Regions from separate parts of the Homo sapiens genome. Here region 1 is linked to region 2. Evidence: fine-mapped expression QTL. Tissue or cell type: whole blood. Region 2 holds a variant in brackets; the other region holds the start of a gene. All regions are shown on one strand. Distances are from middle to middle.

The links. PIP is the estimated chance that this variant, and not a neighbour inherited with it, causes the effect.
Region 1: ZDHHC5 starts here. The variant in region 2 is fine-mapped to the expression of ZDHHC5 in whole blood (INTERVAL, PIP above 0.99).

What each region holds. Positions count from the first base shown.
Region 1 is chr11:57,664,470-57,672,573 of GRCh38, reverse strand. ZDHHC5 (zDHHC palmitoyltransferase 5) reads right to left here and starts at 4,460. Exons shown (of 12, transcript NM_015457.3): 1 at 4,387-4,460; 2 at 1-553. RefSeq lists enhancers at 3,759-3,828, 3,382-4,019, 4,020-4,659, 4,829-5,408 and silencers at 3,939-4,138, 4,389-4,628.
Region 2 is chr11:57,721,174-57,729,269 of GRCh38, reverse strand. All of the region lies in intron 1 of TMX2 (thioredoxin related transmembrane protein 2), which reads right to left. All of the region lies in intron 1 of TMX2-CTNND1 (TMX2-CTNND1 readthrough (NMD candidate)), which reads right to left. Among named protein-coding and RNA genes, the nearest start is that of TMX2, 13 kb to the right of the region's middle. RefSeq lists enhancers at 3,282-3,781, 3,782-4,283. The variant T/C (reference allele first, on the strand shown) is at 4,516.

The DNA.
Region 1 (8,104 bases), 57 kb after region 2:
CCTGTGTTTCTATTTCTATTTCAATCCAAGAAGGAACCTGAGGCCCCTTCCAACTTTAAAGAGGAGCTTTGTTTACTGCAGTCTTTGTCTCTTTTAGGTAGTCTTCTCAATGCCACCACTCCCACACCCTGACTTCACCAGGGCTTGTAGTCTGGCAATGGTGGTTTAATTTATTTCTCTCTTGATGGCTAAAGCTGGACAACAGCTGTTCTAAGTTTGAGCTGTAAATCCTTTTCTTTGAAGGGGCAAGGAAAACAGGGCAAGCTTCTCTGTCTTCAATCTCTTCTTGTTATTCCCAAGCCCTTTAAGGGCTCTGTTTCCTACAAAGTTCATGTAAAACTAAAGGGAAACTTAAAATCCTTGAAGCCATGTTCTTCCCAATAGGCAGAATAAGATGAAGAAATCAATTCCAATTGATGACACTTCAAAAGTTTACTGTGGATGAAAACGAAGTTCCAAAGATGTCCCTGTTTCCAGACTAGTCAATGTCTCTTATCTTTCTTCAGTCTTCAGCTTTCCAGATGCAGAGTTCAACCAGGTTACTGTGTCTCACCTGGAGAAAAACAAGTATCTTTATCAGAGAATTCTTTCAGGGTATTTCTTAGACACCAAGGCTAAAATTCCACAGGCTGCTGTTAAAAAGTACTTTCTGAAAGAAAGACTGTTTTCCATTTCACTTACATGTATGTGGGTAAGAAGGGACTCTGAATTCAGAGGAAAACTGACTTGAGAATCCTTTGCTCTGTTCAGATTGGAAGCAGAACATGGCTTCACCTGGCCAAAGGACATCAAAGGACTAGCTCTTGTAAGGGGCCCATCTCACCTGACATAGATGGTAGTAACAAATACCAAGAATATCAAAATCACAAACAAGGGCACAGCAGTGAAGGGCAGTCCTAGAACAAAGATTTCTCTTTGGACAAGAAGAGTGTTTATTGTTATAGTGAAAAAAGAAAAAAATTAACCTCAAAATTAGGAAAGCAAGTCTCATTTTCTTTCTCTGTGTGTTTCTTTTGCTCCTCTATGCTTTTTAGTTACAATCCTGAAGAGGTAGAAGCTGAATTTTTGGTCTTTTGGAATCACCCATTAGAACACTGGGTAAGAAATGTTCTTGCAGAGAAAGCCATGATGCCCTCTATGAGAAACTGAATAAGCATAGCATAGGGTTGGTTCTTTTTTCCCAATTCAACAGTTTATTATTCCTATATTGGCCTAAGGTAACTGAGCCCCACCTGCCCCAATATGATTAAAAGTAACAATTATTTCTGTTGATGACAATAACAAACTAACACCAGCACCTTGGGATTTTATAAAATGCTTTTCATCTGGTGATCTAAAAGCACTTTACTCACATTATCTGGTGACGCAGTCCCTTATCCCACTCTTTAAAATTGAAGGCTACAGAATGCCCGAGGACATTCCACTGAATCACCTCAGGTTCAGAACTCAAGAGGTCACATGCCCCTCTGGTGACACAAACCCTTTCTACCTTTTCATCCACTACCTGCCCAGAGATGATAACTTGGAATCTGCAAGCCAAAAATTTTAAGTTAGAATTTTAAAAGAAAGTAGTTTTATTCCCTTCTCTACTAAAAATACAAAAATTAGCCGGGCGGGCGCCTGTAGTCCCAGCTACTCAGGAGGCTGAGGCAGGAGAATCACTTGAACCCAGGAGGCGGAGGTTGCAGTGAGCCACTGCACTACAGCCTGGGCAACAGAGCAAGACTCTGTCTCAAAAAAAAAAAAAAAAAAATCAGAAGATTCAGATAACAAAATATAAATGTGCCCTATAATGTACCACTTCCTCTCTCACCTATGGCATGGAAGGCAAAGGTGCCTTCCCTTACGATTCATTTCTCTCTTTAAAATTAGGGTTTCAGAGGGCCAAACAGCAGTATTAGAATACAGTGAGCGCCAAAAGATTCTAAGAAACTGTTATAGTCCTAGAAAACATAAATCCTCTCTAGTCCCTGATTTAATGATTATTTAACTCTCAGTTTCCTACAGGAATGGAAGCCTAACATTTGGAATGTAGGCCTCAGTAACTTTGTTAACAAAAGCAAACTCTTGATTTGTAGACAATATGTACTTTTTTTTTTTTTTTGAAACACAGTTTCCCTCTGTCACCCAGGCTGAAGTGCATGGTGTGATCTCAGCTCACTGCAACCTCCGAGTCCCGGATTCAAGCAATTCTCCTGTCTCAGCCTCCCGAGCAGCTGGGATTACAGGAGGGCACCACCACACCCAGCTAATTTTGTATTTTTAGTAGAGATGGGGTTTCACCATGTTGCCCAGGCTGGTCTCGAACTCCTGACCTCCAGGTGATCTGCCTCCTCACCCAAAGTGCTGGGATTACAGGTGTGAGACACTCTGCCCAGCCAATATGTACTATTAAAGCAAACTTTTCCCTCAAAATCCCAAAGACTAGAAAAGATGGAAAATTATACTACTTAAATTTTATCTAGAGTAGAATATCATTTAGATACTATATATTGTTTCATATATTTTCCACAGGAAAAAAGTCACATGGACTAATATTGACATAGTAATACAGAGTCATGAAAGGCCATGCAATTTTGGGAGTATAATACTGGGAACACAAAAGAGAACAGCATCTGAGATGCTTGGGGGCTACACAGTAGAAGGGAAATCAAAAACCTAACAATTTATTGGGTATAAATAAAGATGAACCAATTCTTAGCAAAAGAATGTGCTGCAGATACTAGGATGAAACCACAAGGGTGAGTATGGTTCATCAGAGTCAACAGTTTGAATCCATACTAGTATCAAAAAAGTATACAAGAATATGTATGCCAGCTGGGCACGGGGGCTCACGCCTGTAATCCCAGCACTTTGGGAGGCCGAGGCGGGCGGATCATTTGAGGTCAGGAGTTCGAGACCAGCCTGGCCAACATACCAAAACCCTGTCTCTACTAAAAATACAAACAAATGAGCAGGGCGTGATGGGGCATGCCTGAAATCCCAGCTACTAGGGAGGCTGAGACACGAGAATCGCTTGAACCCGGGAGGTGGAAGTTGCAGTGAGCCAAGATAGCAGCCACTGCACTCCAGCCTGGGCGACAGAGCCAGACTCCGTCTCAAAAATGAGAAAAAAAGTAATATGTATGCCATATTGAGGCACAGAGTAAACTATGAAATGGAAATATGTATATGTAAAACAAACAATACAGGATATGTGGTTTGAAGGCTTTAATAAGGTTTAATACAGGTATTTCCTTAAATAGGTGGATACCAGCAGTACCAAGGACAACACAACTATTTTTTGTTGAAATAAGCGGTGTAACAGTACAATAGAGTAAATCTAAATGCACAGTAATGGAGGTACCATGGAATAATTCACATGTCAAGGTATGGGAGAAAGAGCCAAGAAGTTTAATGTGGGTGTTATCATTATATACCGAGGTAGCAAAATACATGGCAATATAATTTTGTAAACATTAAGTTTATACAATGGGTGATAATGAGCATTCTGAAGATATTTGATCCAGGACAGAGGTATACTGAGATAGAAGGATGATATGCAAATGTTAGATCAACTTGGTCAAGATGGCATTAACCAGGAAGTGAAGAATCCAAGGCAAAAAATAGTCTAGCGTATAACGTATATGTGATCCTACAACTGCCTTCCTAACTTTTAGCAACTTTCTTACTTCTTATTTCAGTGTTTCATTTGGCCAAGTGGGTAAAACACTTTCCACCTGCCTGCCCCAAATATAGGTAAAATATTGACAAACGCATTCGGGCTCCACTTTAAAAAGTACAAAGTACTAAACGCATGGAGCACTCGGCTGGTGGCGGTAGGAGGAGGAAGCGGACGGGTGAGAGAGAACAGGTAACAGGATGAAGCTTGAGCCAAAATAAGTATCAGCAGAGTGGAGCGAGGGACTCGAACCGCAGAGCGGTAAAAGGGAAACAGCACCCGGTCCCCACCACGGGACTGGGGAAAGGAGAATCACCCGTTGGGGCAGGGCTGACGACCGCTGAAACCGAAAAGAAGGAATCCACGGCGGCCAGGCCCACCGAGGTTGAGAGAGCGGGCTGCGGGGACCGCAGAGCCCGAGGGCGCAGGGCCGGGGGCGGAAGGGGCGGCGGCTGGGCGCCAGGCACCGGGGACCGCGGTCTCGAGCTGAGTGGCCGTCTCTAACCCGTTCCGAGCCCTGGCGGTCGTGGATCCCCGGCCTCTACTCGTCGTCCGTTTCCAAGGCCCATGGGTCCCGCCGCGGTTGGAAGACCCGGCCCGGAGGAGAAATAGGGCCTTAATACCCTCCCCGTCTTCGGTCCCCCTTCCCTAGAGGTCACCCTCCCCTCCCACCTCGCTGGTACGGCACTTCCGGTTCCGCAGGGACCGGTGTCCTCCGCACTCACCCGCGAGCCCGGTGCCCGTCACCACCGCCGTCGTTGTCACCGCCGCCTCCCGGCAGTGCCGTCCTGCCTCAGAGAAGCAGCGCGCGGCCCCCGCACGCTCCACGCCCGCCCCGCTGCCGCGCGCTCCCGCCAGGCGTCGCTCGTCTCGGAGCCGGCGCGCGGCCGTTGCCCTCAGTGCCGGGTCTCGAACCCTTCCAGCGTTCCCATTGGCTCCCTAGTCCGGGCTCGCGCGACGTCTCGCGCGGCGCACGTTTGTCTCATTCATGCGGCTCGCGCTGCCGCGCCCAACCCCGCTCACTCTCCCATTCACCCATAGCCCCCACCCCGACTCCGATCTGGGGCGTGCGCGCGAACCCTGGCGACCGCGGCGACCTCGCGGCCTGATTGGCTGCAGCAACACAACGACGTACGCACGCGAGAAGACGAGAGCGCGCACGTAAGGCCGTGGGGTTGCGGGGACAACTAAGAGACAAGGATTGGCCTAATGCACAGGAGTCAGGAATGAGGAAATGGCCAGGCGAGTCTTCCCTTCTCCTGCGTCCTGTTGTATTCCCACTGAATCCAAGCAAAAACCCCCGGAAATAAGAAAAGAATTATGTGTGTGTACTAGAAGTACTCAAAAGCAAGCAGCTACCTTCTCGAATTCAGCAACCCCTCTCCTACTGAGGTGGTACAGTCCAGACAGGCTTCCAGCGCAGCCAATTACCGACGACTATCGCCGCTTCCTGCTTCAGCCCCTTCGCGGCGGATTGGCCAACCATTTGGCGACTAGGCCTCCCTCTTCTCCTTCCCATCTCCTTTTTTTTTTTTTTTTTTTTTTTTGATGGCAAAAACTTTATTTAAAACAATCTTGCTGGAGAAATCTTCAGTCCGGCGAGGTCGCTGGTCCGGGCAGAATCCAGGGCGATGGAATGGTCTGGGCTGTGTCTCCCACATGAAGGGGACGCCCGGACTTGAAGAGCCAATGTAGGGCGAGGCTCCTGCCAAGGGCCGGGGAGGGAGATGAAGAAGAGCAGGCGCCAGCCTTGGAGCCGTAGCGCTAACCGTGAGAGGGAAGCCTAAGGAGCGCGCGACCTGAGGCGGTGGCAGCACCCTCCCGCCCCCGGAGTGCGAGCCGGGAAGTGAACTCCCTGAATTCCATTAGTTTCCCACTGTCACACGTGGGATGGGCGCCCGCATCCCTCACCTCACCCAATCCTAGAATACAAAGCTAAAAGCAAAAGGTTCTCTAGAATAGCTACTGTCCCTGGCGAGCTAACTCTGCATAGGTCATAGTGCTACGCTTTGCCCTGATTAGCCCAAGACAGCTGTGAACCCAATAGCAATGCCCCATGTTCTCTCCCCATTCGGCTCGAGGCTATTTCTTTTTTCGAAAGCAACTCTAGCTATTACATAATGGTCCCTCAAAAAGGTGTTTCACAAGCCACTTCCCTGAAGCCGAGGCCCCTCACCTGTAAAATCCTGAGGACTGTCCTCGGGTTTGGTCTCAAATGTTGCTGGCTTTACTGTGGTTCTGACACTAGCATTAGGCAGTAAGGTAAAAGAGAACTACCTTCTGTTTTCTGGAATCTAGTTCCTTCTCTGACATGGCATATATTATAAGTTCTAGTTTATTCTTGTTAACAGCGTCAATCCAGCATTTATTGCAACACACTTGAGAGTTCTTTATAACGACTTTATATTTTTAAAACAGACCTGGCCTGGCGTGGTGGTTCACACCTGTAATCCCAGCACTTTGGGAGGCCAAGGCAGGCGGATCACGAGGTCAGGTGCTCAAGACCAGCCTGGCCAACATAGTGAAACTCCCTCTACTAAAAATACAAAAATTAGTCGGGCATGGTCGGGGGAGCCTGTAATCCCAGCTACTCGGGAGGCTGAGGCAGGAGAATTGCTTCAACCCGGGAGGCAGAGGTTGCCGTGAGCCGAGACCACACAACTTCACTCCAGCCTGGGCAACAGAGCAAGACTCCGTCTCAAAACAAAACAAAAACCTCTTTAGACCATATGAAAGGTAAATTATTGAAGATACAATATTGATATTTTATTTTTTACTTTTTGAGAGGGAGTCTCACACTGTCACCCAGGCTGGAGTGCAGTGGCGCGATCTCAGCTCATGGCAACCTCCTCCCGGGTTCAAGCAATTCTCATGCCTCAGCCTCCTGAGTAGCTGGGATCACAGGCATGTGCCACCACACCTGGCTAATATTTGTATTTTTAGTAGAGATGGGGTTTCACCATGATGGCCACATTGGTCTGGAACTCCTGACCTCAAATGATCCTCCCACCTCGGCCTCCCAAAGTGCTGAGATTACCGGTGTGAGCCACAGTGCCCGGCCTGATATTGGCATTTTCTACCTGTAAGCCATGTTTCTTTAAGATGAAGTCAGCTTTCATTTTTCTGTTGCAATATTTTTCTTGGATTTTTAGACTTCCTGATTTCCTCCACAAATTAGGCATTTTTATTTTCCTTTCAGCTGTCTAAGAACTTGTAAATAGTGGTGTCTCTTGGCTAGACAGTGCTAAATGGAAAAAAAAAATCAGTCTTCCACCATCCAACCAAACTAAACTCCCCTGGGATACTAACTTGGATTGCCAAGCTTTGTTAGGTGGATGAGCACTAACAGAGGTATAATCACTATCCCAAAGTTGAAAGACAGAGATTCCACTTGTCCAGTTTTCCTTGGGATCACTCAAGATATTTCTTGGAAAGAACGTTTAATAGAACATATGGTTTAAAGTGCCAGCTACTTCTGAAAAGTATCCAGAGTAAAATCTAGGCTAAAACAGTATGATATCCAGACCACCCAAACTTTAAATTACTTTAATATGTTAATGGCTTCTCTCATCTGCGCATCTTTGTTCATCTTGCTCACCACACTCTTCGGCTGCCTGGACTTAGACCCTCAGTAGCATGGGCACCTAAGCACACAGAAAGCTAGAACATGCATTTCCCAATTTTTGTGTTTTTAGGGTTTCACCATGTTGGCCAGGGTAGTCTCCAACTGCTGAGCTCAAGTGATCTGCCTGCCTCGACCTCCCAAAGTGCTGGGATTACAGGTCTGAGCCACTGCTCCTGGTCAACCTCTTTGTGTTTAAATACTGCTCTTTCCTCCTGTCCTTGTGAAATGTCTCTGTATGTGTTAAAGGGTAGTTCTTCCCTTTGTGCTGTGGATCCTATCTCCTTCGCTCCTGCATTTTTTCTGGTGCTGGGGGATGGAGTCTTGCTCTGTTACCCAGGCTGGAGTGCAGTGACGCGATCTCAGCTCACTGCAACCTCCGCCACCCATGGACAATTAATAGCTCATATTTAACACTGCCAAAAACCTCGAGTTTCCCTTGTCCCTCAGGGGGACAACTCCCTGAGTTTTCCCAATCTCATGTCTAACCTAGTGTGTCTTGTTAAAAAAAATCCAGGATGCATCCTTGATTCCATCGTTTTCCTCACCACTCCGTTATGAAGTCCTGCCTTCAGAATATCCTCTCACCAGCTCTACCTCTGCTGCCCTAGTATTTCATCCCCCACCATTTCTCACATTTGCACTTTTACAAAACTCTCCTAATTACTGTCCTTGCTTTTACACTTGCCCTATAACCCACTCTCCACAAAGCAGTGATCTTTTCAAAATGTAAAGTAATCAGCCAGGCTAATCCCAGCACTTTGGGAGTCCGAGGCGGATGGATCACTTGAGGTCAGGAGTTCGAGACCAGCCTGGCCAAC
Region 2 (8,096 bases):
TGCAAATGTGCACAAAGACCATATTACTTCCATTTTATATCAATTCTGGCAAGTAGAGGTGCCATAAAACCTATGAAGGACCCGAAAAGGGGACATTCTCCTCATTTTCTCCTTAGTCTTAGATTTGTTTCTCGCCTTTTTTTTTTCTCCTTAGAGGAGCTGAGCTGTAGCCTAGGGTTCTTGTGTGGTGGATTGATGTGTGGTGGATTGATGCGTGCTGCTTGCAGGCAGGACTCCACAGTGTCACCACTGAGTCGTTTCTGCCCTCTTAAGTGTCTCTCTCCAGAGGTCTGTGACCTCTGAGAGGGCTCAAAACGCTGGGTGATCAGCCCTCATGTGTGTTTCCTGGATGAGCCATTTTTTAAATTAATTGTTTTTGGGGATTAATCCCTAAAGGGATTTCCCTTTAGGGCCGCTGTACGTCTTGGGGGTCAACCCCTGGACACTCCCACAAAGCCCCCAGTCACCCAGGGGCACCTTTCAGCTGGGAAGAGCAAACACCCTTTCTCTTCAGAGCTGAAAAACTCAGTCTCTATGAAAGCAACAGTTCAGTTCCTCACACAAATGGACACAGATGAACCGAATCAAGATAAATTTTAGGAGAAAAAGCAATAGAGAATTCCCTTCAGAATGCATACCCAAACTACAATCAGGATCCTTAAACAACAACTTCCTAGCAAAAAACCAGCTCAGAAAAAATCAAGAACCATCAGCCCTTGAAGGGAGGTCCGGGGCTCAGGACGACTTAACAGTTCCACCGAAGGAGAAGCTCGAACTCAGTGGGGCTTCAATGGGCCCCTGCTGGTACCTTACCTCCAGTCTCGGGCAACTCCTTTGGGGTTCTGAGTCTTCTCTGAGGCCAACGTTGGGAGCCATATTACTGTTGCCAAAAAGAGTCAAACTCACAGTGAAACCCCATCTCTACTAAAAATATAAAAAATTAGCCAGGCATGGTGGCGGGCGCCTGTAGTCCCAGCTACTCGGGAGGCTGAGGCAGGAGAATGGCGTGAACCCGGAAGGCGGAGCTTGCAGTGAGCCGAGATGGCGCCACTGCACTCCAGCCTGGGCGACACAGCGAGACTCCGTCTCAAAAAAAAAAAGAGTGAAACTCTGTAAAATATTTTCAGAGATTTATTCTGAGCCAAATATGAGTGACCATGGCCCATGACACAGCCCTCAGGAGGTCCTGAGAACATGTGCCCAAGGTGGTCTGGGTAGAGCTTAATATTTTAGAGAGGCATGAGACATCAATCAAATACATTTAAGAAATACATTGGTTTCGTTCAGAAAGGCAGGACAACTCAAAGCGGGGCTGTAGGTAAATTTAAACATTTTCTGGCAGACAATTGGTTGAGTTTGTCTAAAGACCTGGGATTCACAGAAAGGAATGTTCAGGTTATGATAAAGGATTGAGGAGGCCAAGTTTTATTGTGCAGAGGAAGCTCTCAGCGGACTTCAGAGAGAGCAGGTTGTAAATCGTTTCTTATTGGACTTAAAAGGGTGCCTAGCTCTTAGTTGATTATTTCCTGGATCTGAGAAGGAAGGAAAACAAAGGGGAGAGGGGATTCTCTACAGAATGTGGATTTTTCCCAGAAGAGACTTTGTAGGGCAATTTCAAGGTATGGGAAGGAAACAGATTTTGGGGTAAAACATTTTTAGTTTCTTCCTTGTTATGCCAGAGTCAGATAGGAAAGTAAGTCACAATAGATATCCAGGGTTAAATAAAACCCATCTGATGAGAATTTATGGTTTTTAGGGCATGATTACCCAGACCCCTTAGAAAGGAATTTGGGCAAGATAAAAAAAATCATAGCTTAGTCCTCAGTCCCCTCTCTTGGCCAAAAAGCATTCCATAGAATGTATGTGTAGACCAACAAACACCAGCAGGTCCCAACGTGCTAGGAAACCTCATTCCTAGAGTTGTCTGATTTGGCTATCTGGCAGGGTCCCACAGGACTAGGAAGGCTTGTTTCTAGAGTCCTTTGATTTGATGGTAATAGTTTTAAATATTAGCGATTTGGATAATGGGGGGAGGACATGGTCTGACCTGATGTAATAGCCAATTGTTTAAGGGGTGAAATGGAGTCAGGCTTAGTCTAAAAAAAAATCCCGGATCAGATCTATTTTCTGAGCTATTATGATCCGGGTCTTTAACTGTGCCTTTGCCTTTTGCTGTATCTGGCATAATATTTACAAGAAATGCCTAATGCTAATATAATAACAAATATCATAAAGACAGTGAAGATTTGGGCACTCAGGGTTATAGGTAGAATCTGAGGGCAGTAAACAACCCAATCAGCCAGGAAAAACCCTGCATGCATCATCTATTCTTTGAATAGACTTACAGTGTGTTTGTACTCCTTAATAAGGGTTATTTGAACCCTGTGATAAATCTTATTTGAAAATTGTGATACCAACATTAAATTAGAATGTAATAAATTTAATCTCTCTTTCCGCCAATTTATCTCCATAGGTATAGCATCCTGAGGGAGGATATAAATTAAATGGGAGAAATGCCTGGTCCTTGGTGTTTAAATTGTTACAGACTTATTAAAAGTAGAAACCTATTTTTCCCACAACTTTTGTATTGCACCATATACTGGTATTTGGGAGAAAAGGTTTTGTCACAGGAGAAGTCATATAATTCTACAGTGTTTTTTCCTTGGCAGGACTCCCTATGGCTGAGGGCCTTAAGAGTCAAAAGACTTATAGTCAATTGTTTTAGGCCATATAGGAATGGATGTGGACAGGCATTCATTACTTCTTAAAATTATTAAGTAAAAAAAAAAGCCAACAATAAACCCAAAAAACAAAGTTACAAGACTGACTTGTTTTTTTTTTAATCTTATCTTTTATGGAGATGGAGTCTGGCTCTGTCGCCCAGGCCAGAGTGCAGTGGCGTGATCTCGGCTCACTGCAACCTCCGCCTCCCGGGTTCAAGCAATTCTCCTACCTCAGCCTCCTGAGTAGCTGGGACTACAGGCGCATGCCACCACGCCTGGCTGATTTTTTGTATTTTAGTAGAGATGGGGTTTCACCATGTTGCCCAGGGTGGTCTCGAACTCCTGACCTCAGGAAATCCGCCCACCCCAGCCTACCAAAGTGCTAGGATTACAGGAGTGAACCACCACGCCCGGCAGACTGACTTATTTTTAACTTTTATGTGGAGCTACTGTAAGCTTGGTTTCTGTTACAGACTTATAGCAATTAGCTATACAAAACATAAGCATCATTCTGAGAAATAATTTAAAATATGTATATATACATATCTGTATCTGTAGATATATTTATCTTCACGACTTATAATTTGGAGTATTATACCCAGGAGGCTTTGTTCCATGGTACTTTATAATGTTAGTAAATATTTTTCCTTAATTTTATAGTAAGCAGAAAATTTTTATGGTTGGGGTGGATGCAGAAGTAACACATAATAGTTTAGAAGGCAACCAATTTTGTTTTACCAGCTGTTTGGGCATTTTTAGTACCCCCTTCTTGATTTGGAGGGTTTAATCTTGACCTTTTTTTTTTCTTCGAGATAAGAGTCTCACTCTGTCGCCCAGGCTGGAGTGCAGTGGCACAATCTCAGTTCACTGCAACCTCCACCTCCTGGGTTCAAGCGATTCTCCTGCCTCAGCCTCCCAAGTAGCTGGGATTACAGGTATGTGCCACCACACCTGGCTAATTTTTGTATTTTTAGTAGAGACAGGGTTTCATTCTGTTAGCCAGGCTGGTCTCAAACTCCTGACCACAAGTGATCCACCCGCCTCGGTCTCCCAAAGTGGTGGGATTACAAGCGTGAGCCACCTCGACCAGCCAATCTTGACCTAATTTTATCCCTCAAAACCAGCCCTTATAACCTCATGTGCCCTGGCCCAAAGGGAGGCAGCTTGTATAGTTTTAGCAGCAGAGCATTAGCAGTGAAACAGATCCAGGGTCAGTGGGATACCAAATGAGGGAGATTCATGTTTCTAGTCTTCAGAATACCATGATTTCGGTTTCCTTGGAAGTAAAACAGGGAGAGATAAATAATGGCTTAATCTGCACTTAAAAAGTCAGGGCTTAGTTTTTGCCATCAGCCCCGATAAATGCTCCACACAAAAGGCTATGCAATGGAGGATTTACATGAGCAGATTTACATCTTCAGTTTTACAGTACTAGAAAGGGGAAAACATCCCCCAATTAGATGTAGAACCCATTTTCTTTTCTTTTCTTTCTTTTTTTTTTTTTTTTTGAGACACAGTCTCACTCTGTTGCCCAGGCTGGAGTGCAGTGGCACGATCTTGGCTCACTGCAACCTCTGCCACCCGAGTTCAAAGTGATTCTCCTGCCCCAGCCTCCCGAGTAGCTGGGATTACAGGCGCCTGCCACCGCACCCAGCTAATTTTTGTATTTTTAGTAGAGACACGGTTTCACCACCTTGGCCAGGCTAATCTTGAACTCTTGACCTTGTGATCCACCCGCCTCAGCCTCCCAAAGTGCTGGGATTACAGGTGTGAGCCACCATGCCCAGCCTTA[T/C]AGTACCCATTTTCATAAGACATTTAGGTAAAAGGGGTTACAACTACCTTAGATAAAGCTTGTTTAAACATCTTACATTTTACAGTTCTATTAACCTGTATGTTTTTATGTTCTGGTCCCAGGAAGCCTTTTTTTTTTTTTTTAATCCCCAGACCATTTTACCTTTTCTGGTACAAAGGGTTTGCGTTCCCAGCATGGGGTTGCATCTGTAAGACCTATGAGGGACAGGATATTTGGTAAGGCTTCTTAAACAGACCTATGATTCTGTAGGAGGGCACCCATGTAAAACGGGCCCTCTTAACCTCCAAATTTACCATGACCTGGGTAATAGACATATTTGGTGGGAGGATATCCCAGTTATCATAAAGCTAGTGCAACATGGCTTGTATATGAAACATACTAACTGCTTCATCTGGGGTACTTCACTTGGTATTTTAAAGGGAGAGTTGGGCAGTTCCCTTCTCAGGGCAAAGAGACCTTATAATGGCATTATCTGGCCCACTAGGCTGATTGCTTTTTCAAGAATAAACCCCCTTTGCGTTTGGATCATATATACTCAGTGACTGTTCAGTAATGAGTTCTGGGTCCTGCATTAATTCAAACAAGCTCTTAAATTCTGTAGCATTTAAAATTAAGAATTTTGTCCTTAAAGCAGTTATTTTCACAATCCACTAAAGTTTTTTTTAAAAAAAGAAGCTGAATGATACCAATCTACAAAATGGAACAATTCCTTTACATTACACCCTTTGGTTTTAAATAGTTACTTGGTTTTGCCCTTCCCCTATATTGACTATTTTCTTGGTAACCATAGGGCTCAGAGTTTTGTTGCCCTGGCTTGTTTTGTTTTCCTTTTTAAAAAAAAAAAATCCATTTAGTTTTATCTGTATAATTTTCTTCATTATAAAGCAACTCTTAGCTTATTATTATTATTATTATTATTATTATTATTTTTGAGACAGAGTCTTGCTCTGTCACCCAGGCTGGAGTGCAGTGGTGTGATCACAGCTCAATGCAACCTCCGCCTGCTGGGTTCAAGCAATTCTCCCATCTCAGCCTCCCGAGTAGCTGGGATTACAGGCACTCGCCACCATGCCCGGCTAATTTTTGTATTTTTTTTAGTAGGACAGGGTTTCACCATGTTGGCCAGGCTGGTCTCGAACTCCTGACCTTGTGATCCGCCTGCCTCAGTCTCCCAAAGTGCTGGGATTACAGGCGTGAGCCACTTAGTTTCTTTCTTTCTTTTTTTTTTTTTGCGATGAATTTTTTTTTTTGAGACGGAGTTTTGCTCTTGTTGCCCAGGCTGGAGTGCAATGGCACAATCCCGGCTCACTGCAACCTCCGCCTCCCGGGTTCAAGCAATTCTCCCGTCTCAGCCTCCCAAGTAGCTGGGATTACAGGTGCATACCACCATACCCAGCTAATTTTTTTTGTATTGTTAGTAGAGATGGGGTTTCATCACATTGGTCAGGCTGGTCTCGAACTCCTGACCTCAGGTGATCCATCCGCCCTGGCCTCCCAAAGTGCTGGGATTACAGGCGTGAGCCACTGTACCCAGCCCAAGCCACTTAGTTTCTTAACAAAAAAGAAACTTACATTTTTTTGAGAGTTGACATCCGTGTGTTTATTTATTTATTTATTTTCTTTGAGACGGAGTCTTGCTCTATCCTCCAGGGTGGAGTGCATTGGCACAATCTCAGCTCACTGCAACCTCTGCTTTCCGGGTTCAAGGGATTCTCCTGCCTCAGCCTCCCAAGTAGCTGTGATTACAGGAACACGCCACCACGCCCAGCTAATTTTGTATTTTTGTACAGATGGGGTTTTGCCACGTTGACCAGGCTGGTCCCGAACTCCTGAGTTCAGGTGATCCACCCGTCTCAGCCTCCCAAAGTGCTGGGATTATAGGCTTGTGCCACTGCACCCCAGCCAATAAAATTTTAATAAAAGCATATTTTATGTTTCTACTATCTTAACTTCTAGTAACCCAAATTTCCAGTGGGGGAAAAAAAAACTTGAGGGTTTAAACATGACTTTAAGATTTTTAAATCACTGGAGAGTTTTACCAAGGTTATGTAAATTAAAAGGCATCTGAGCTAGCTTTTACCAATGTGATAAGCACTTACATTTTTTAAATTACTTGATTAGAGCTCTTTCATGTAGTTTGGCAGTAAAGTATCACTTCTATATGACACATATAAAGATACAGATATAACAGGCATGCAGAATAAAAGCCATGTTCAAAAGATACTTTATTTGCCTGTTTTCAAAAACAATTTTTCTCCCTTACTTTAGATAATTAGTAAAAGTTACAGGACACAACAAAAGGTGAAGGAGAGAGCCATCTTTCAAGGCCTTTTCAAAAGAGAAAGAGGGCCGGGTGCAGTGACTCACACCTGATTTTATTGTCTCAACTCTTTTATCTTTTTCTTCTCCTTTTAAAAAAATTCCTTCACTGAAGCTGGGTGCGGTGGCTCACACCTGTAATCCTAGCACTTTGGGAGGCTGTGGTGGGAGGATCGCTTGAGCTCAGGAGTTCGAGACCAGCCTGGGCAACACAGTGAGACCTCCTCTCCACAAATGATTTTTAAAAATTAGCTGGGCATGTATGTTGGCACGTGCCTGTACTCCCATCTGCTTGACAGGCTCAGGTGGGAGGATGGCTTAAGTGCAGCAGGTTGAGGCTGTAGTGAACTGCGACCATGCCACTGCACTGTAGCGTGGGTAAGAGAACAAGACCCTGTCTCCCCCCTCAATTTTTAAAATTAATTTAAAAAATAAATAAATAAAATTACTTCAGTGAGAAGGAAGAAATCTCAACTCTTATTGCCTGGTTAGTCCTGGGCAAGTCCAATCCAGGGAGGGCCTAGCTGGTGTCTCAAATTAATAGGTCTATGATTAGCAGCCCCCCACGTATTGGTGGGATACTACAGGAAACACACACATAAACACCATCCTTAACTGTCTATGAAAACAAGAGTCTTTCGCTATCTTAGCCTATTTTTGAAAGTAAATATTTTGGGGGAATGTGAGGGTTATATCATCTGGTATTCTGAACCTAGAAAATTACCTCTGAGACTTTCCATGAAGAAGGCTTATTGGCTTAAGTCGCTAAGTAAATTGGCTTTATTTAAAAAACATTTTAGACCAGGCACAGTGGCTTATACCTGTAATCCCAGCACTTTGGGAGGCCGAGGCTGGTGGATCACCTGAGATTGGGAGCTTGAGAACAGCCTGACCAACATGGAAAAACCCCATGTCTACTAAAAATACAAAATTAGCTGGGCATGGTGGCACATGCCTGTAATCCCAGCTACTCAGGAGGCTGAGGTTGTGGTGAGCCGAGACTGAGCCATTGCACTCCAGCCTAGGCAACAAGAGCAAAACTCCATCTCAAAAAAAAAAAAAAAAAAAACTTTATTTATTTATTTAAATAAAACATTGATTGATTGATTGATTGGAGATGGAGTCTCACTCTGTCACCTAGGCTGGGGTGCGGTGGCACTATCTCAGCTCACTGCAACCTCTGCCTCCCAGTTCAAGCAATTCTCCTGCCTCAACCTCCCAGGTAGCTGGGATTGCAGGCA